5 separate regions of the Homo sapiens genome follow, and all the other regions are reported to be linked to region 3. The links are microRNA targets in miRTarBase. Many come from high-throughput screens and were not tested one by one. Region 3 holds a microRNA gene; each other region holds the end of a gene's coding sequence.

What was found. Region 3 holds the annotated microRNA hsa-miR-8054 (GAAAGUACAGAUCGGAUGGGU, at 2,308-2,328, opposite strand). A microRNA usually pairs through its seed, bases 2 to 8, with sites in the 3' UTR of a target mRNA and lowers its output. Matches are read on the target gene's strand: a 7mer-m8 pairs with bases 2 to 8, a 7mer-A1 pairs with bases 2 to 7 and ends in A, and an 8mer does both.
Region 1: the mRNA of GTF2H5 is a reported target of hsa-miR-8054. Seed matches in the 3' UTR shown: 7mer-A1 at 399-405.
Region 2: miRTarBase lists CPS1 as a target of hsa-miR-8054. Seed matches in the 3' UTR shown: 7mer-A1 at 3,087-3,093.
Region 4: miRTarBase lists ZFYVE21 as a target of hsa-miR-8054. Seed matches in the 3' UTR shown: 7mer-m8 at 2,680-2,686.
Region 5: the mRNA of PNISR is a reported target of hsa-miR-8054. Seed matches in the 3' UTR shown: 7mer-m8 at 2,837-2,843 and 7mer-m8 at 2,618-2,624.

The regions. Positions count from the first base shown.
Region 1 is chr6:158,191,338-158,195,491 of GRCh38, reverse strand. GTF2H5 (general transcription factor IIH subunit 5) reads right to left here. Exons shown (of 3, transcript NM_207118.3): 3 at 1-3,515. The coding sequence ends at 3,335. Among named protein-coding and RNA genes, the nearest start is that of GTF2H5, 25 kb to the right of the region's middle. RefSeq lists an enhancer at 521-1,121.
Region 2 is chr2:210,677,284-210,681,429 of GRCh38, reverse strand. CPS1 (carbamoyl-phosphate synthase 1) reads right to left here. Exons shown (of 38, transcript NM_001875.5): 38 at 2,323-3,543. The coding sequence ends at 3,445. Among named protein-coding and RNA genes, the nearest start is that of CPS1-IT1, 62 kb to the right of the region's middle.
Region 3 is chr11:23,416,853-23,421,006 of GRCh38, forward strand. It overlaps MIR8054 (microRNA 8054), which reads right to left and starts at 2,338; the gene lies at 2,253-2,338.
Region 4 is chr14:103,732,115-103,736,262 of GRCh38, reverse strand. It overlaps ZFYVE21 (zinc finger FYVE-type containing 21), which reads right to left. Exons shown (of 7, transcript NM_024071.4): 6 at 3,501-3,643; 7 at 2,599-3,280. The coding sequence ends at 3,245. It overlaps PPP1R13B (protein phosphatase 1 regulatory subunit 13B), which reads left to right. Exons shown (of 17, transcript NM_015316.3): 16 at 61-260; 17 at 1,068-3,068. The coding sequence ends at 1,109. Among named protein-coding and RNA genes, the nearest start is that of ZFYVE21, 18 kb to the right of the region's middle.
Region 5 is chr6:99,397,302-99,401,301 of GRCh38, forward strand. It overlaps PNISR (PNN interacting serine and arginine rich protein), which reads right to left. Exons shown (of 12, transcript NM_032870.4): 12 at 749-4,000. The coding sequence ends at 3,239. Among named protein-coding and RNA genes, the nearest start is that of COQ3, 5.1 kb to the left of the region's middle.

The sequences.
Region 1 (4,154 bases), not on the chromosome of region 3:
AATACATTGTTATATCCATCAACTGTGATGTTAGATAGGATCCCTGGAATTTTAAATTAATCACATGAAATTTCACAAGGAAATTGGAATTCAAGGAATTAAGACCTTGAATTTGACCTAATACAGTATTAAAAGAAAAAACCTTTATTGAGAAATATAACACTCAATATCACAACTTCAGTCCATAGTTCTATTAAGAGACAAAGTTTCACTCTGTCATCCAGGCTGCAGTGCAGTGGCACCTTCTTAGCTTACTGCAGCTTCAAACTCCTGGGCTTCAGTGATCCTCCTGCCTCCAGTTAAGTCATTTTAATGCTACCTTTAGGACTTTATTTAAAAAAAAAAAAAAAGTCATAAATTTCTTGGTGCCAAGCACCAACAGCCTTGTTCTGGACATGTAAAGTATGCCAAATCAAATAATGCTAGTCAGATTCCAATAAACAGCCTAGGTGAATGTCGCTTATTTCCTGTTCACCCATAGTTGGACATGTCAGCTAAGTGGTTACAGGTGGGCTTCCTATCATTCACATCACTCTATCTTTCTTAATAATGTCCAGAGAAAGAAAGATATTTAACATTTGCCCCAACACAACTTTTTAAAAATAAGAGCTCATATTTTCCTTCACTTATTTCACTTAATACTCTTTGCAGTTCTAATACCTAACCTTGTTTTTACTAACCTTGTTTTCAGACTGTCCCTTTCTCCCTTAATCACCTAGCCTTGTTTCCATGTGAATAAGCTCTCCCTTAGCTGAGAAAGCCGGAGGAACTCCATTTGGTTCCTTCATTTACAGGACATCAAGGACTCCTTACCCACCCCCTTTCCTCAAGGAGTTAACTTGTGTAAGCTGACTCTCAACATATCAAAGAGTCCAATTAACTCATAAGGTACTGAAGCAAGCAATGTACGAAGTTCCCAGGATTTCGCTCAAGAGATACACCATAAAGCCTTGAGTTTGTGTCTGGCAGAGCCCCCACACCTGACATCTTATGATAGATTTAGAGCCCCTGCACCTGGAACTGTTTGTTTCTCTGTAACCATTTGTCTTTTTAATTTTTTGCATGTTTTTACTTCTGTAGAATTGTTGCAACTGAGCTCCCGTCCCCTTCCTAAACCAAAGTATAAAGGAAAATCAAGCCCCTTCCTCGGAGCTGAGAGAATTCCAAGTGTGAGCCACCTCTTGGCTGCCAGCTAAATAAAGGACTTTTAAATTCGTCTCAAAGTGTGGCGTTCCTCTAACTTGCTCGGGTACAACACAGTCACTGTTCAATAGTTTTCTCATAAATATCTTTTTTTCTCTTTTTTACTTCAGTGGCAAAAATCCTAATACCTTTTGAACTCTGGGATTCTATCAAAAATTTTCTAAGTTTCATGTTAATATAAAAGGTTGGTGACAAATGCCTGAGGCATACTAAAAGTTGATTTAGACATGCCTGAAATATAAGATACATTAGTAACATTTTGGTATAGCTGGAAATTCATTTTTTTTTTTTTTTTTTTTTGAGATGGAGTCTCCCTCTGTCGCCCAGGCTGGAGTGCAGTGGCACAATCTCAGCTTACTGCAAGCTCCGCCTCCCGGGTTCACGCCATTCTCCTGCCTCAGCCTCCTGAGTAGATGGGACTACAGGCACCCGCCACCAGGCCCGGCTAATTTTTTGTATTTTTAATAGAGATGGGGTTTCACCGAGCAGGATGGTCTCGATCTCCTGACCTCGTGAGCTGCCTGCCTCAGCCTCCCAAAGTGCTGGGATTACAGGCGTGAGCCACCGTGCCCAGCCTGGAAATTCTTAAGAATCATCTTTTACTTAACTAGTTTTAGTAGTAGTAACTCATCAAAATTTTTTGCATTGCTATGAGGGAATGAAAACTGTGAACTGTATGGACTGAGTTATATGGGTGGGAATTATGTAAAATATACCTAACTGAAAATTTCCAGATTCAGTAATGCTGTGTAAGTGAATAAATATGGTACACAGGTGCTTTGAATAAACATACCATAAGGAAGCAGGTAAAATGGATTTGTAAGAGTCTACAGGTCATGAAAATTCTCTTTTCTCTTGGAAAATTCCCTTTACAGGAACCCACCCCAATGACATGATCTTCAGGAAGGGAAGCAAAGCCCCTCTCAGTGTTACTGTTTTTGCCTTCAATTGATCACAGAACTCTCTCTTGCTATATATACACACATACATATACACTTTTTTTTTTGGAGACAGGGTCTCACTCTGTCACCTAGGCTGGAGTGGCAGTAGCAATGATCAAGGTTCACTGCAGCCTTGACCTCCTACCTCAGCCTCCCCAGTGGCTGGGACAACAGGCAGATTTTTGTATTTTTTTTTTTGTAGAGACAGGGTTTCGACTCCTGGACTCAAGCGATCTGCCTGCCTCAGCCTCCCAAAGTGCTGGGATTACAGGTGTGAGCCACTAAGCCCAGGCCGCAATGTATTTTAATCTAATATGTCCTTTCCTGTTGGGCTGACTTTGCATATGGCTGTTCCTATTTTTCTTTTTTAGATAAGTTTGATAAGTATTCTCATAGGGAATAAGGTACAAGTAGAATTTTTTTTTTTTTTTTTTTTTTTTTTGAGGCAGGGTCTCTCTGTTGTCCAGGCCAGAGTGCAATGGTGTTTTTGTAGCAACCTCGGACTCCTGGGCTCAAGCAATCCTCCCACCTCAGCCTCCCTAAGCTGTTTTCTTAATAAAAAAGAATACAGATGGGAAAATGTGACCAACAAAGTTTGAACAAGGAAAAACTAAACAAAGCAGCATGTGCCTTTCCCACTGGTTGTTTCTAACCCTCTTAAAAACAATATTCTGTTTTCAGGGAAATGCAAACTGTAGTTTACATTAGTTTTACATTGTCTTCCTCAATAGAGCTGACTGGTATGCAGGTAGGATTTGTGAGACGTACATAATGTCTAAGTCCCCACCTTGGCATATTCAAACAGCAAATCTATGACGTTTCTAACTGAAACCAAACAATCACATCCACGCAGCAAAAATGCACAGATCACAGGGATGAGCAAAATAAATACCTATGTTACACTGACATGGTATTAAAAAGGCAGGAAAAGCATTGACATTTGTATTTTAATAAAGGATAATAAAAGCCAAATTACAGCCAACTGTTAAAGCTTTTTTTTTTTTTAAATTCTATGGTAACAAAATCAGTTCAGGGGCTTTTTTTCTGAACAAATGATCATGATCCCTCAGTCTTTCCCGTGGCATGCTCCTAAAACAACCCTCTATGTCTAATCAGTCACCTAAGATATTGAGTGGCAAGTCTTTCACAGTTGCTGCTTATAATTCCTAAATGGTCCATATTGAGTATTTTCATTTCTGGGTAAGGGAAAAAGCATTTTGGTCCATTAATTCACCCACTCGCTCCTGGAGGACATTAACCAATTCTGCTATTACAAAGACGTGAGTGTCATCAATGTCTTGAATGATGAACTTCTTCCCCAGGGCATTGGACTCATCCAAGTACAGCAGAAACTGCTTCATGGCAGGATCACTGTAAAGACAAACACATGATTGTAAGACAGCTTGTTGTCAAATCACATCACAGAGACTTGAGCAATTAAATGTGAACATGTAGAATTTTTAGAATGATTTTTAAAGTTCTGTTACTCAATCCCTCACTTCCTCTCTGCCTCAAGTGTTAACAATTTATAGACATGGCTTCATTTTAGAACTATTAGTGTAAGTTGGCCGGGTGCGATGGCTCACACCTGTGATCCCAGCACTTTGGGAGGCCGAGGTGGGTGGATCACCAGGTCAGGAGATCGAGACCATCCTGGCTAACACGGTGAAACCCCGTCTCTACTAAAAATACAAAAAATTAGCCGGGTGTGGTGGCGGGTGCCTGTAGTCCCAGCTACTTGGGAGGCTGAGGCAGGAGAATGGTGTGAACCTGGGAGGCAGAGCTTGCAGTGAGCGGAGATCGTGCCACTGCACTCCAGCCTGGGCGACAGAGCGAGACTCTGTCTCAAAAAAAAAAAAAAGAACTATTAGTGTAAGTTGAAGAGGCAGAGGCCAATGGCAAGATTTTTAAAGAATAATTTGTCACTAAGTGGAAAAAATAAAAGAATATTGAAAGCTTTGTAGTTAGTAGGGCCTAGAATCACAGCTTTCTTAACTGATTTAAACACTG
Region 2 (4,146 bases), not on the chromosome of region 3:
TCTCCCTCTTCAATAGAGCCCATCCTTCTTGCACACCATTAAATTCTCAGTATGGAAAAAGCTACTTAGATTTGTTATTCAGCTCTACAGACATAGACCCTGTGTTGTCCGAACTTGTGATATATAATAGATTTGGACATTTAAAAATGTGTTAACATGTTTATATGAAAGAATAAATATGTTCCAAAAGGACAAAGCCTTGCCAAATCTGAGCACAAATGTTTCTACTTTCTTGGATTTCTCTCCTCCAACCAAAGATCTTAAATGTGTTATTTATCTGTTGTTAAGTCTTTTTAAAGTTTGGAATGTTGGAAAACAGAAAGGCAACCAAAACAAAAATTAATGTAATTCCATTTTCAGCACCATGAGGTCTATCCTGTCTTCTGGTTTTCCAAAGCCCTTTTGTCAACAAAAAACAGAGTTTATATAGACACAATGTTAAATTAATTATTATTAATCTTCAAATTTTACCATATCTTACAAATAGCCGGCTCACATTAATATAAAAATTAGGACCCTTTATTAAATTCTCACAATACAATGATTAACTAATTGAGTTTTTGACAGTTTCAGCAAACAATTGTTTATTTAAAACATTGAGTTACATATCTAAATTGGTCACTAACAGCCTGCTCACTTTTAGTCAACATGTAATTTTTATCTTCCTCTGTGAATATGTATGTGTGTCAAGTGTGTTTAGATAGAGAAATAGATGATAAGAGTAGAATAAAGCAAATGAAGTAAAATATTACCAATAGGTAGATCTGGGGATTTTTTTACTTTTAAAATTTAAATCCAAAATTATTTCCAAATAAAAAGTTTTAAAACTTCTACCTAGTTTAAACATCCACCATTAAGAGTCCAGTCTCAACTTCTGCTACTAGCCCTTTCCCTCCACACATACCCTGAGCTCCAGTCATAACAACGTCATTGTCATTTTCCTAAATGTCCTTACCTTCTAGTCTTCCTTGGCAACTGCAAGATCTTATTCAAGGCAACACATGAATCCATCTCCTTAAAATGCCCTTCCCTGATCTCTGCAGGCAAATTATTTTCTTTACTGTGAGAAATGATTTCTTTTTACATGCCTACCTTCACCAGAATATGATACAGAAAAGTGAGACTCCATTTCGTGTGACCTTGAGCATGTTACTTAACTTTGGTATGCCTAAGTTTTCTTATTTATAGTATGGAGATAACAGCACCTACTCACAGGGATATTTTGTGGATTAACTAGGTTAACTCATGTAAAGTACTTACAAATGCCTGAAAAATAGTATGGACTCCATAATGTTAATTATTATGGTGATGGTGGTTGTGGTGCTGGTGATATGTAACAGAAACATGCTAGAATAATAGTAGGAGAGATTGTGATATATTCTACATGAAACATGGAAGAAACTCATTAAATATTTTCAGGTGAATGAATCAAAGTGATCAGGGATTACATAATTATATGATTATAGGGGACCAGCCTGCCCAACATGGCGAAACCCCGTCTCTACTAAAAATACAAAATATTAGCCAGGCTTGTTGGCGGGCACCTGTAATCTCAGCTACTCAGGAGGCTGAGGCAGGAGAATCGCTGGAACCCAGGAGATGGAGGTTGCAGTGAGCTGAGATCGCGCCACTGCACTCCAGCCTGGGTGACAAGAGCAAAACTCCGTCTCAAAAAAAAAAAAAAAAAAAAAAAAAGATTACAGGGAAGAAGTAATGAAAGTCTTGACCACAGGAAGAACAAGGAAGTGAGGGGGAGAGAAGATGAATTACTTTAAGCATTCGTCTAGAGCTATACAAAGTGGTAATCAATTGACTGTGAGGTAACAAGGAAGAAATAAAAGCTGTTATAGCATAATTATCTTAGGACCTTCACAAAGCCATAGTTTCGGTGGTAAATTGGGGATATGGCATCAGTGTGCTCATTGGCACTATTTCCATCAGACAATGCTGGTCAGCCTCTGATTGGGTTAAGTTACTTTTCTGAGTTATGCAAGACATTTGTTTGAAAGTTTACTATATATTTGTGGCAATCTTTAATCAGTTTGTGGTTGTAGTTATACATTAGAAAGGATCCAGATCAAAGATGGTTTATAGCCATATAACCACATAATGTTATGATGAGACTTAAAAGCAAGGGAGGGACAAGAAAAAATGAAAAATGTGACAGCTAAAACTTATTTTTAACATTAATTTTCTCATCCCTATATGGGTTTGCATGGAAAAAATAAATAAGCAATGCAATCCTGGCCCAAAACCCTATTTTATCATAGAAGTAAACTGATTTTTGTACAGCAACATAAAATAAAACCAGATTCAACTGCATTACCTCTTAATAGTATTTTATTTAAAAGTTCACAATTAGAGCACTTGTAATAACAGAAAATATTTAAAAGTAACAAAGGCTGCCCTTGGGGAGAGACTTTTTTCTTATATGTAGAAGGAATGGTGTCCTTGCCCTTACAGTGGGTGGAATTAATAGTGCAGTGTGGGACCCCATAGTTCAACAGAATCCATCGTCTTAAGGGAATGAACCTTACTTCCAAGTTATTCCAAAACTGGGGGAGAGTGTGAATGACAAAAATCTGATTATTTCACTCGGGCCAAGTTAAAATCCAATGATAAAAACAACAACACATCTACATAAACACTGTCTACCATCTGCTGATATAGTCCAGAAAACAAAACTGCAAACCAGTATTCCTTAAAGAAATCCATAGTCTAAAGCAGGAGAATCGCTTGAACTTGGGAGACGGAAATTGCAGTGAGCCGAGATTGTGCCACTGCACTCCAGCCTGGAGAGTGTGACTCCATCTCAAAAAGAAAAAAAGAAAAAGAAAAAGAAAAGAAAAGTCCATACTCTAAATGCCTCTGTCACATTTCTCAACTTCAATATAATGGGAAGGGATAACAATATTCCTGGATTAGCCAAATGGGTGAGAATGAGGATCCAAAAAGAAGCAATACACAAACATCATGATGGAAGGTTCATAAATTAAATCTATATTTAATTTTATCAAGTTTTTAGAGTATTCTGCCCTGTTAAAGTGTCCTGAGTTTGCAGATAGTGTTTTAAAAATAGAGTATCTTAAAGTATAGAAAGAGTTCAGAAAATAGAACAGCAACTTTTCCTACCTTGATCACCATTAATCAGCACCATAAAAAGTAAAAAGCTACACATAAGCACATAGGCAAGCCTAGTCCACCAAAAATACAGTATTAGTAAATGGATGAAATCTCATGAAGAGTAACTTAGGAAGGACTGTAAGGTTTTGAAGAAGTGACTGACAATTTAATTGCAAAAGACACAGAATATTAAGGCATAACAAAGTAAACTGAAATGAAGTTTAGTTATCAATATTCATCTCTGAGAAAGTTGTGAATCAGTTCCTTTAGATAACATGTGGCTCAGGTTGATTTAATAATGGGGCTGGGGTGTCTGCATCTCTATGCTGCTTTTCCAGCACTGTACTGCCTGTAGTGGAAAAGACTCTTGGAGTCCACCTTGCGAGATTTCTGCACAGCTTCAGCAAAAAGTTTGGTCACCTGAAAATATAATGGTAGGAATCAGCACCCTCCATGAGATAAAAGTGAATTTTTAATGAATGAAGACAAAAGTCACAAGTGTCTGTCCCCAGTTTTCAAAGGGGTATGGGATAAAAGGCATAAAAGTTTTTTATGTAATGGAGACTTTCTCCCATGTCTCAGACCTCACCATGGGGACTTTCTTTTATATCTCAGATGTCACTGTGAATACGCTTATTTCTCCTCCCATAGGGATTAAAACTGATTCTGCATAAAAAATAAATATGATAGGCAGAAAGTTAATGAGTCTCCACTCTGTTTCTCCCTGTGATAAATTCGATGGGTCATGTCCAAGTGAAACTGAACATGCCTCATGCAATCATTTTCTGTGAATTGAACAAGCACTTGTGCTACATCTGGACCATCATTAACCTGTTGCTTTTATATGGTGGCTTTCATTTAGAAACAATGAAATAAAAGTTTGTATCTTTATTCCATGTCATGCTGTCACTTTTTATTCAAAGGATAATTGTAAGGAGAGAGCCATGGCCATTCATGGCCTTTGATTATCTCAATTGCTTGATCACCAACTGTCCCATTTAAGCCATGACCTACCATGTTAGC
Region 3 (4,154 bases):
AAGTATTGAGGAACTAAACAAAAGCCATTGTGTGGTATTTAACCCCTAAAGAAAGAAATTTGTTTTATCACAGTTTTGGGGGCTGGATATCCAAGATCAAGGTGCCCCCAAGATTGGATTCTGATAGACCTTTCTTCCTGACTTGCAAATAGCTACTTTCTGACTGCTGTGTCTTCATGACTTTTCCTCTGCATGAAGGCACTCTTGGTGTCGCTTCTTCTTATATGCACACCAATTCTACTGGATAATGGCTCCATCTTATAACCTCATTTAATTGTAATTACCTCATTAAAGGTCCTATATCCAAGTATATTCACATTAAGGGTTAAGGCTTCAACCAATGAATTTTGTGGAGACATAATTTAGACCATAACACTTAGTTTCCGGATCATAATAAGAAACCAATATCTAGCATCTATTATTATTCACAAACATACAATAATTGGAAATTCCGAATAAAAGATACCCATAAGTTATATGTCAAGGAGGTTTCAGGAGCACAGAATAGAAGGTCTTTGGAGGCAAACAGCTCTACTCTAAAAGTAGATATAACTTAGAGGGAGGCATTTCAGGGACAACAAAGATAAAAATGGAAATTTTCTGATGAAAAAATTATTTCGAGAAACCAATTTATTTCTTATTTCTCCTATACTTTGGGACCATCCTACCTGGACCCTTAGAGTAATTCATAGTATTTTCAAAGCCTTTTTAAAGTAAAGTAGGACAATCTTTTTAGTCATTGTTCAGTCTCACACCAGGATCAAGGTATTTTCAGCTGTTTGAGAATACAATCAGTAAAACAAACTACATGCTAAACTTCCAGTCACTGATGAGTTTAATGCAAAATAAGAAAGTAAAATATATACCCACTCCTTCATTCATGCTGATATAGTGTATTCAGTAACCTCTGCCTGAACTTGTCCCGAGACAGAGCCATTCAGCAGTTTTTGATTTTAACATAATGTCACAGATGTGATTGGCTTTGTAATCTTTGTCAAATTAATAGTGTGCAAACATTGCAGAATAATACAATGTAATACAGAGTCAATGATGTATGTGCTGTATGCTGTATTAGGTGGGAGGATGCCTCAAAACTCCTTTACAGTCATATCCCAACAAACACTTGTGAGAAAACCTGCAATGAGAGGCTGGAGGGGTGGGGATCGTGGGATTCTTACTTTCAGGATATCAAGTATTTATATTAAAAGGGGGTAGAGGAAATGCCTTGATCTGTTCACTGCTTCTCAGATTTCATTCCTGACAATTCTTCCTTATAATGAAAGGAAATAAAATGAGGTGGGGACAAATAAGAATGGGAAGTAAGACCAAAAAGGTTGAAAAAATAGTTGTGGTTTTCTGAAACAAAATTAAGGTCATGAAATATCTGGACCCCTGACAGCTTCATTTCTTGTTTCTTCTGGCATTGTTTATCACATTAGCTAAATGAATTAAGCACTTCAATTAAAAGTCTCCTGACTGCTGATCAATCAACATGATTTTCAGAGTGCTTAAATTAATCTCTAAGGAAACATCAAATTCGATTAATGCTGTTACTTGGCCCATTCACATACACACAAGCCCAGGACACATTCACATGCACACACACACACACACACACACGTACTAATTACAAATATCGTTACTTTGGTATCTTAAGGTTAATTCTCACTCTCAGACATTATATGAAGCATCTTTGTGTACTCTTTTTCTTTAAAAGTCACAACTTTATCACATACATAGGTAACATTATATAGTTAATTTTATAAATGAGGAAACTGAGACTTAGTATGTCTCTTCCTTGACTATAGTCCCCAGATTAATGAATGGAAGTTTTATTATTTTAGCCTATTTCTGTCTAATTTGAAAACTACTAGTGGGAGAAAAGAGTTTCATTATGAAGAGCCTTGAGTCAGATGGAATATTTTTGAATTTTGAATACAGTAATTAGTGTAAAAATGTTTGCGTGTTAGTTTGTTTCAGCATTGCCTTCTGTAATATGAATATAAAATATTTTGTACCTAAAAGAAATGTTGTGACAACCAAATGAATAAATGCAAGTAATGTACTCAGAAGTACATTACTCAGAATGTAGCACCATCTAGTAAATGTTAGTCTTGAAGATGATGATGAGGAGGAGGAGGATGGTGATGACTGAAGATAATAGCAAAGATTCATATTGCCTCTGGTGAGAAAACAGCTTTATACACAGTGGGTGATGCTTCTTTCTATTTGTGAAAACATGTTTTTCTGAAAGACAATGAGATATGTACAATGGGAAGGCTTGCTTCAGCTAAAGCAATCTATTGAACCCATCCGATCTGTACTTTCTGCATTGCTGTTACTACTTTGACCACCCTTGACTACAATTCTTAGGATAATTCTTGCAGGAAAATGCATATGATGTCACCTGCTGAAACTGGAAATACAGATTATTGATTGTACTCTAGGAAACTTTATGTCTTATTTTCTAATGGAGTTTAGGGACTGGGCATCCAATAGCCAACTGAAGGAATATACCCAGGATCCCATAGCTTGTTAGCATGACTTTCAGAGGAAAGGTATGTTCATTCTATCCAAAGCCTCCAAATTCATTCTCCCTCATGCATTCTGTTTTTATACTCACCTTTAATATGGATGGGAGGTTAAAGTACTCCTTATACCACACTTAGTCTAAATTGTCTGCCAAGTTATTCAAAGTAATTAAAGAAACCCTGGCTTTAAACATAGAACCTAGCTAAAACCCACAATTTTTCAGAAATTTTTAAAGCACCTTTCTGTTTCAGTGGTTATCAGTGCCAAGAAAAATATCTTCTTAAAAACAAAGATACTCAATTTTAGAAAATTTGTTCTGTTTTCAGACACCCTCTTTATATTGTGTTTGACTTAATATCGGGTAGAGACAGGGTTTGTCTCCACAAAGGATAGCATTAAAACACTTAACATTAATAAATGGAGAAAAAGTGCAATTCAATAGCATGTTCTCAAATTTTACCAAAACTATCATTACTGATTTACTAGCAAATGTTTAAGAGGAATTGGTAAACAGAGTTCCTAAGCTATTTCAGGTTCTTTTTGTAGATTTTATGGAATGAATTTTAGAAGATTATTTTTTATGCTGGCAACATGTAATTTAGAAACTAAGCATAATTAAGATACTAGATGATCAGAACTGAAATAAGCTAGAATAGACAGGAACATTTTCACTGTATGGAACAGGCTTACTGGGAGGAGGATGCATTTGAGGTTAGCAACTTAAGTATGGTATGAATGAAAAGCAGGCCATTGCAAAAGCAGTTATAGAAAACTATAGTTCCTCAGTCATTTGTAACTCACAGAAGTTAAGCTAAATTTTAACACAAGCAAATCTAACCCATCAGAATTAATCAAGCCCTGATTCCAAGCCAAGCGTGCTAGTTAGGATTAACCTGAGTTTCCCTTCACTATCTCTCTTTTCAACTCTTTCCTTTCTCTCTCTCTCTCTCTCCCTCTCTCCCTGTCTCTCTCTCTGTTTCTCTCATACACACACACACCCCCCCACAAAGTTTTGCTTATTTCAAAATTAACCTATAATAGTAATATATGTGCTATTTTATAACAGACACTTCTCAAAAGAAGACATTTATGCAGCCAACAGACACATGAAAAAATGCTCATCATCATTGGCCATCAGAGAAATGCAAATCAAAATCACAATGAGATATCATCTCACACCAGTTAGAATGGCAATCATTAAAAAGTCAGGAAACAACAGGTGCTAGACAGGATGTGGAGAAATAGGAACACTTTTACACTGTTGGTGGGACTGTAAACTAGTTCAACCATTGTGGAAGACAGTGTGGCGATTCTTCAGGGATCTAGAACTAGAAATACCATTTGACCCAGACATCCCATTACTGGGTGTATACCCAAAGGAATATAAATCATGCTACTATAAAGACACATGCACACGTATGTTTATTGAAGCACTACTCACAATAGCAAAGACTTGGAACCAACCCAAATGTCCAACAATGATAGACTGGATTAAGAAAATGTGGCACATATACACCATGGAACACTATGCAGCCATAAAAAATGATGAGTTCATGTCCTTTGTAGGAACATGGATGAAGCTGGAAACCATCATTCTCAGAAAACTATCGCAAGGAAAAAAA
Region 4 (4,148 bases), not on the chromosome of region 3:
CAGGGTCCCTTGCTGCAGGCCACCCTCTGCTGAGGCCTGACCATTGCTCTCTGGCTCCAGGGGTGCAGGAAAAGCTGGGTGTGATGAACAAAGGTGTGGCGTATGCTCTGTGGGACTACGAGGCCCAGAACAGTGACGAGCTGTCCTTCCACGAAGGGGACGCCCTCACCATCCTGAGGCGCAAGGACGAAAGCGAGACTGAGTGGTGGTGGGCTCGCCTTGGAGACCGGGAGGGCTATGTGCCCAAAAACCTGCTGGGGGTGAGCACTCAGGTTACTTACTGGGAAACTAGCTGCCCGTGTCTCTGTACAGCATGCGGTCCTATCCTGCTGTGGGGCTGGGGAGGGAGGCTTCGCTTCTCTGAGCCTCAGCAGCCCCCTCTGTAGAGGGGGAGGTGCCTACTTGGCAGAGCTGGCATGAGGCTCAGGCAGGGCCCCAGGAGGTTCCCCCAGCCATGCTTATGCCATGGAGGCCCGTGCGGAGGCTGAGTGCCCCAGTGAGGGGCCGCTCAATGAGCTCGGTTCATGATGAACTTCACCAAGTGGCCCGGCTCAGCCCACCCACACTTTCCCCAATCTAGAAATCTCTGCAGCCTAGAAATTTCTCCAGTGGAGGGAGAGGTGGGAACGTGCAGGCTGCTAGCTCTGTGTTGGACTTGTGATTCCCTCAGTCCTCTGGCAGAGGGAGCTGCCTCTGCTCTCTTTGTGCCCTGCAGAGCTGCCAGGGGCTTGCTGTTGAGCCAACGTTCTTGGCCAGGCAAACACAGCAGGGAGCCAGGCAGAGACCCTTGCCCAGGGGAGCTTATGACCTTGAGAGCCACAGGCAGTCACAAGTCTTTAGGTGGCATGAAGTGTTGTGAGAAAAATAGGATATTCTGGGGGTACAAGGCACATTTTAAAGAGGGCTGGGTGGGTCTCAGTGTAGAGGTGCAGCTGAGCGTAGGCCTGAGGGACAAGGGTGCTGCACGGCTGTCCAGGGTGGCTGAGGTGAGGAGCAGGGGTCGGGTCTGGCTGGCCCTGCTCCCTGTGTGTGGCTTCCTGTCCTGACGCGGCTCCGTTGCTTCCCAGCTGTATCCACGGATCAAACCCCGACAGCGAACACTCGCCTGAACTTCCTTTTGGAGCACCGCATGGTCTTGCCAGCTACCAGGAGCCACTTAAGAGATTATTGTGCTGTTTTCCAGGAAAGCTGCAGCTAGAAAATGGTCTTAATGGTGCTCACTTTAGCAGACAGCGTCCACAATGTGAATCCTACAGTTTCCAGGTGAGGCCCTTTCTCCAGTTTGCCCATTAACTGGGAGAGGTACTTTCGCCTCCAAGGACTGAATTTTGCCAATTACTATAAATCCAAATAAATACCCACTTTCAAAACACCCACCCCTCTTGCCATTAAGAAGTCCCATAACCCCCGGTTGGTTGCCAGTGAAGACAGAAGCTCTTACTGACTTGGCCCCGAGGCCATCACCCCCTCCAGCAGTGAACACTGTCCGCCGCTGTGAGGCCTGCTCCCCTGCGACCGCCCTGCCCCCCGTCACCGAATCGGACACTCATCCTTTCTCACACTTCCCACACATGATCCTTCTTCCCTTCATCACCAAAGGAGCCTCTGTATGGAAACATGTCCAGTGTTGCTGCCCAGTGTGTATGCCTCCCAGTACCCACTCTGCTCGGCCGCCTTGGGGGTTCCGCTTCCTGTTCCAGTTCACCTAAAGGCTGATTGTGCAGGCCCAGCACTGTGGCTGGACTGCCGCGCCACGGGCACCAGGACCCCTAAGACCAAGTGACAACTGGGAGAGCCTCAGCATATACTCTTCTCCTCCGATCTCACAGCCTGTCATGCTGCTCAGTGTGGTTCTCACCCCTGCAAGCTCAAATTCAGTTCCCTGAATGGAGTCAGGTGCTGGAGGCCGTGGCAGCGGAGGGTGGTTGGGGTTGGGGCTGGGGGTGGACTGGTGTGAGGGCAGACCAGGGCCAGGTAGACGGGGCTGTTTGGTGCCTGAAGGATGGCAGACGCCTGGTGTCAGGAGGGGCCGCCACCAAGGAGCAGCAGCTGGGGCAGAGGAGCTGGGGTCAGGGGCCACCCCTCTCTGCCGATCTCCCTGCCTGGGCTGGCTGTGAGGCCACCTTTGTCCCAGGCCCAGCCTCAAGGCAAGGAGGGCGCTTCACTGAGGTGTGAATTGTACGTACAGGCTTTTTATATACCAAAAGTATTTTTTGACTAGACCATTCAAAGCTACCCGAACTATGTTGGAAATTTTTTTTTTCTCATTAAAATACAGGCCCTTAGGCTCTATTTTTCATGTATGAGTCGTGTGTAATTTATGTAAAAATGTGTGTACAGACTCACTGATGCAGCACTGTAGCCCATCACCTTGGAGCACTGACTGTACATAGTGTGGTGAAGAAAAGTGAACGCCCTTGTAGAGCAGCCCGACCACAGGAGCATGGCCGCTGCCAGCCCAGACGCTGCTGACGCTGTGTAAATGTGCACAATAAACCCGTCTCACCCCGGCGGCTGTGAGTCTTCTTTCTGGACCCAGACTGCGCTGTGGCACGAGGGTTCAGGTGATCTGGACACAGGAAGGCGAGGCCTTGTCCGTATGTTCAAAATAGTTTTTAATCATAAGCTTTATATACAAATTGCTGTACAGTCATCTTAATAAAGTGAAATAGTGAGTGAAAAGTACAAAACACAAAGCCCCCACGTTCCCCTTGGTGAAGTATCAAAGGATCACTCACAGCCCAGAAGCCCCAAATTAGTGACAAGGTAAGTGGACAAGTCTGTGAAACAGGCTAAGGCAAGTGCTGTAAACTGGCTATTAGAGGCGAACAGGCTCCACTGCAGACCAGAAGCCTGAGTTCCTACTGCCCAAACTGGTTCTGTGGAAGAATTAAATGAAATGAATATTGATGGGCCAGAACCTTCTAGTAGACCTGCGAACTCATAAAAATGGTATATATTATGCTAAAAATAGTTTAGCAGTAGTGTAGCTCAGTCTCTCCCACCCCCAATTAAGTATTGACAATACACAAATTCTAAAACATGAAGCTGTTTAAAGCATTAATAAACTGTGAACATATTGCACTAGATAAGTGAACACTCCTGTTTCTCCAAATACATGAGTGAGTTGCATTTCCCAGCACAAGCAGGATTAATCCCTGTGGTACGCAAGGAGCAGGCTCTGCTGTTCCAAGCGACTCAGTCCTGGTGACCACACGTACTCCAAGCTCAGCCCCACGTAGAGTTACTGGTCCCGAGATTCATAGAGGAGCTTGGCAGCCTGCAGATCAGACAAGATCAACACAGTGAGGCCTGCTTGGTCCTGTGCCTGGTGGAGCCAAGCCTGTGTGCATTTCAGGGGAGATGGCGTGGGCACCCCAGCTGAGGGGGAACAGGTTGTGGGGATAGGGGGCAAATGGCAGGACACAGAGCTTCCTCTGGGAAAGGCAAGCTTTTGTCTAAGCCAAAGGGCCCAGCCTCCCTGGCCTGGGCTCAGGTACCTTGTGCATGGCCACTAGCCACGCCACCGCCTGCCTCCTGCCCACAGTCACGTCCTCCACCACTGTCAGCTTCAGCTGGGTCACACCCTCCGTCCCCGGCACTGTATACTGCAGGAACATGCCTGTGGCCCGTGCGTTGCCTCCTGGAGGAGAGAGACGAGGTAAGACGGCCCAAAGGAGGCCCTGAGTGCCCAGGCGGCCACCAGCCCCAAGGCGGTGGCCAGCACATCCTAACCTTGTGCTGCTCCAAGAGTAGCCTGGCAGTGAGGGCTGGTGCTCAGGAGCACCCAGGGAACACCATCTCCTCAGGCCTCTGAGGGGAGACCCCAAGCTCACAGGTGGGGTGGGAGAGGGACCAAGACACTCAGCCGGGTGCCCCAGGGCCCGGGACAAACAACAAGAGCCACATCACCACGAGAGGCCTTGCTCTCGGCTAATTGAGGCGCTGCTATGCCCTGGGGCCTGTGGGGGTTCCTGCCTTCAGAGAACCTCCAGACAAGACTGGCTCCTGCAGAGGTGCCCACCTGCACCCAGGGCTGGGGGAAGAGTGGAGGCCACCTCGAGAGTGCCCTGGCCACTGACAGGCCAAGCAGATGGTCAGGGACACAGCTGGCCTCACCCAGGAGTCAGAGGCCTCAGCCATCCCAC
Region 5 (4,000 bases), not on the chromosome of region 3:
TCAGGAGGCTGAGGCAAGAGAATCACTTGAACCCAGGAGGCAGAGTTTGCAGTGAGCTGAGACTGCGCCACTACACTCCAGGCTGGGCAACAGAGAAAGACTCCATCTCAAAAAGCAAGAAACAGCAACTATGCAGTTGCTTAACTTGGGGACATGTGAGAAATGTGTCATTAGGTGATTTCATTGTGATGTGAACATCACAGAGTATACTTACATAAACCTAGATGGTATAGACTACTACACACCCAGGCTACATGGTATAGCCTTTTGCTCCTAGGCTACAAATACTATATTGAAAACTGTAGGCAACTGTAATATCATGGTTTTGTGTATTTAAACACAGAAAAGGTACAGTAAAAATACATTATAATCTTATGGGACCACTGTTGTACATGTGGCCCGTCATTGACTGAAACGTCGTTATGTGGTGTATGTCTGTACTCAGTACATTTTAGAAACTTCAGTAAATCAAAATACATTTAAATTTATGTAGGAGAAGAAAAACTCAGTTTAGATGTAAAGATTTCTGTAAGGCAACACTACAGAGACTGGAAACCTAATACAACTCCTATGTAAAAATTCCCAAATACAGTAAAAAATTCTTTACTATTACCTTTCATGTGTTTAAGGAAACAAAAAACTCAGGACACTTAAAAATAGACTGCGAAATTTACCTACTTGGTATTACACCACTAGAAACAGATGCTAAAAAGGTAATTTTATAGTGGCAGAAAACATATACACTAACGAGATTCCACACCAATTTTTATTTATATTTTGGGGCCTGAAACAAATCTTATAATCACCTCTTTCAAATTACATTTTATTCCCTTAATGGTGTGGTTTACCCCCACTCCACAAAAACAATTATGACTAATACACTAGAAATATTTTTTAATAGAACCTCTTAAACAAGACATTTTCATTAACCAATCCAGACCAAGGATTGTCTCAAAAATTTGATCTGTTAATTTTCTGGTGGTATTATTTTAGAAAAGATTTCATAACCAAATTATACATCTAATTAACTTATGTGTAAGTTTTTGCATTCACATCCTAAATCATGGAAACCCTACCTTATAAAACCTTACCACTCAAGGTAAATAAATACTATATCACATGTCAAGAAAATAAAGAATTCTCTAAATCTGCCACTAAAAGTCTGAAAAACCCAAATATCAAATTATAACACTGGTTTATGTACTAATAATCACAAATATCATGACGGCTTTTAAAAAAACTACAGACTTAACTGATAAGCTTGCAAATTACGGCAGAGTAAATAAAACTGTCAAATACTACTTTTGGCTCTAGTTCATAACTTGCCCAAAAATGTGCATATCATAGCCAACAGAATTTTTCTGTAGAATTTTATTTTGAAAATATTTCACTTCAAGATTGATCTAAAAAACATTTTAAGATATGAAAATGTTATACAACTTATCTATTACAAATTAATCAGATAATTCTGCAATTAGGTACACTGTGTTAGCTCGCCTACATAAAAAATATTGCACATTTTATTTTGTCTCCAGATGTGATCGATGTCTAAACTATATAGAATTTCAAACTATTTTAAAGTTATTCTGTGAAATGTCATCTTTATAAATATCAGAACTAAATGCACTGTAAACAGCCATTTTGGTAAACATGCATTTATTCACAGTTGATTTATTTCCTTTAGATAAATGTGTAACTGCTCAAAATTATATAATAATCTATGTAGAGGTACAAGAGCACACTATACAAATCTATTTCTATCTTCATGTTGAGGAAACACTGATCTTGGCAAAAATCTGGCATGATTTTTAAAATGAACTATTGCTGGTAAGAAGGCATACTTTAAAACTTTTCTGTGGCCTGCACCTGTTTTCTTTTTAAATTAAAATGTAAAAGCATTTGTTTTCAGAGATTCATTTATCACTGAGTAAGTGATTACATAAAAAAATGGACCCTAAAGCAACTGAGTTAAAATGCTTTGAGAGCCCCATTCTACTTGTAAGTTATCAATGCCTTAAACTGTTAGACCACTCACTAATCATAATTTTAAGAAACGGACAAAATCAGACAATTTTAATGTCAGGAAATTGACACAAACCTGCATAATACAGCATTCCTCCATTGATTTGAGGTCATATTATACTTTAAAAATATAAATAAATATATTGAATCATGAGTCTTATTTCTATAACCCCAAAAAGTGTTTCAAAATGCTTCTAAAACAGAAGTGGGTGACTGTAGAATATAGTTCCAGACTTGACTATTACTGTCAAACACAATCGTTCCTTACAAATAACTCTACTGGTGCACTGGCTTGATTGATTCCAGCAATTTCATTTTACAGGAGTGAACCACACGTTATACACACAGAGAATATATTACTTGAAAATCCCCAAAATAGGAAGAAAAGTTTAGAAAGTTGTCAAATACTTCCAAATGAAAAGTAAAGGTCTATTTCTAGCCCTCTTTCATACCCTTAAAGTTGGAATCTGGCAAAAGTCCATGGGTACAATTTACAAACTTTGACAAACTATTAAGTAAAAACCATTTTCTTTGGGGGAGGTGAGAGAAGGTACCTTTAAAACCTGTTATACAAAATTCCAGCTGCCTTTTTATAAAAGTACGTTCCTTAGATTAAAACCATAAAATTAAGGTGCAAGAGTTTAACAAAAATGAACTAAAGAGCTTTATTGACATCACAGTACATTCAAGAATAATTTTAAGAACATTACAGCTGAAAGAGAATGGCATGTTTATAGTCTTATTATGCACTATATTTTTTGAAAAAAACGTAATACAAAGAAATCCTATTAAGTAACTTGGAGCAGCATTGGAAAAAGTACACCTATTTACAGATTAAAAAAAAAAAAGATTCTGGTTTCACCTACACAGCCACAATGTGCCTCTATAATGAGACAAGCCCTTAAAACTCATGGAATTTTTTTAAAGAACATCATGGCATTCTTGCCACATCATTCCTCAGCGTTTACGACGGGGAGGGGTTGTTGATCTGAAAAAAAAGGGAAAAGACAAAATTTAAAAATAAAAATGTATTTTAAATTAAAAATCTGCAATTTTAAATAAATAATATTATATAGGATTTCTAACATTTAAGACTATGATTATTTATCAAGTACCAAACTGAGTTTATTAAAGAGAGAGAGAAAGGACACTTTCAACTTTGAATAAATTCAGTCAATTTTTTTTAAAAATCAGACAAAATACTTTAAAAAGTATACTACCTTGATCGGGACTTAGACTTGTGTTTGCGGCTTGCCTTCTTACCAGACCTTTGAGATTTCTCCACGGATCGCGATCGACTATGTTTAGGCTTCTTAGCCTTCTTTTCTTTGCTACTTCCTGGAGACTCAGAACTGCTCCTTCCACTAGAATCAGAGCCTGAATGTTTTTTACTATCTTTGGTAGTACTTTTCTTACTATCCTGTCTAGAATCATGTCTTATGATTTTAACAGATATAGAACCACTCCTAGAAAATGTTCTTTCACTTTCTCGTTTCCTTTTTAATCTATCATCCTGACTACTGAACTTAAAATCTTTTTCTTCCCTTTTTTGTTTCTCTTTTCTTTTATCCTGTTCACGTTCCCTTTCTTTGTCTTTCTTTTTCCTATCTTTATCTATACTTCGACTCCTCTCCTTTTTCCTCTCTTGTTCTTTAGCCTCACCTTTATGCTTATGACTGTTCCCACTAAGATTTCCACGTTGATCATCAATTTTACGCCTATCTCGACTCCTACTGCGACTGGCACGATTGGTTCGTCTATCCCTTGAGCGACTTCTACTTCTACGTCTCTCTCGGGAAGGACTCCGATTTCGTCGTCTTTCTCTTTCAATGCTATTTCTATTAGATCTCCTTCTATCTCTAATCTTTACCCTAGCCCTATTGCTCTCTATTTTAATTCTGCGAGAATAGCTTCTACTCCTGCTACGTCTAGCTTTGATTGTTGGAGATCTACTCCTACTGTGTCTCTTTTTCCTTTT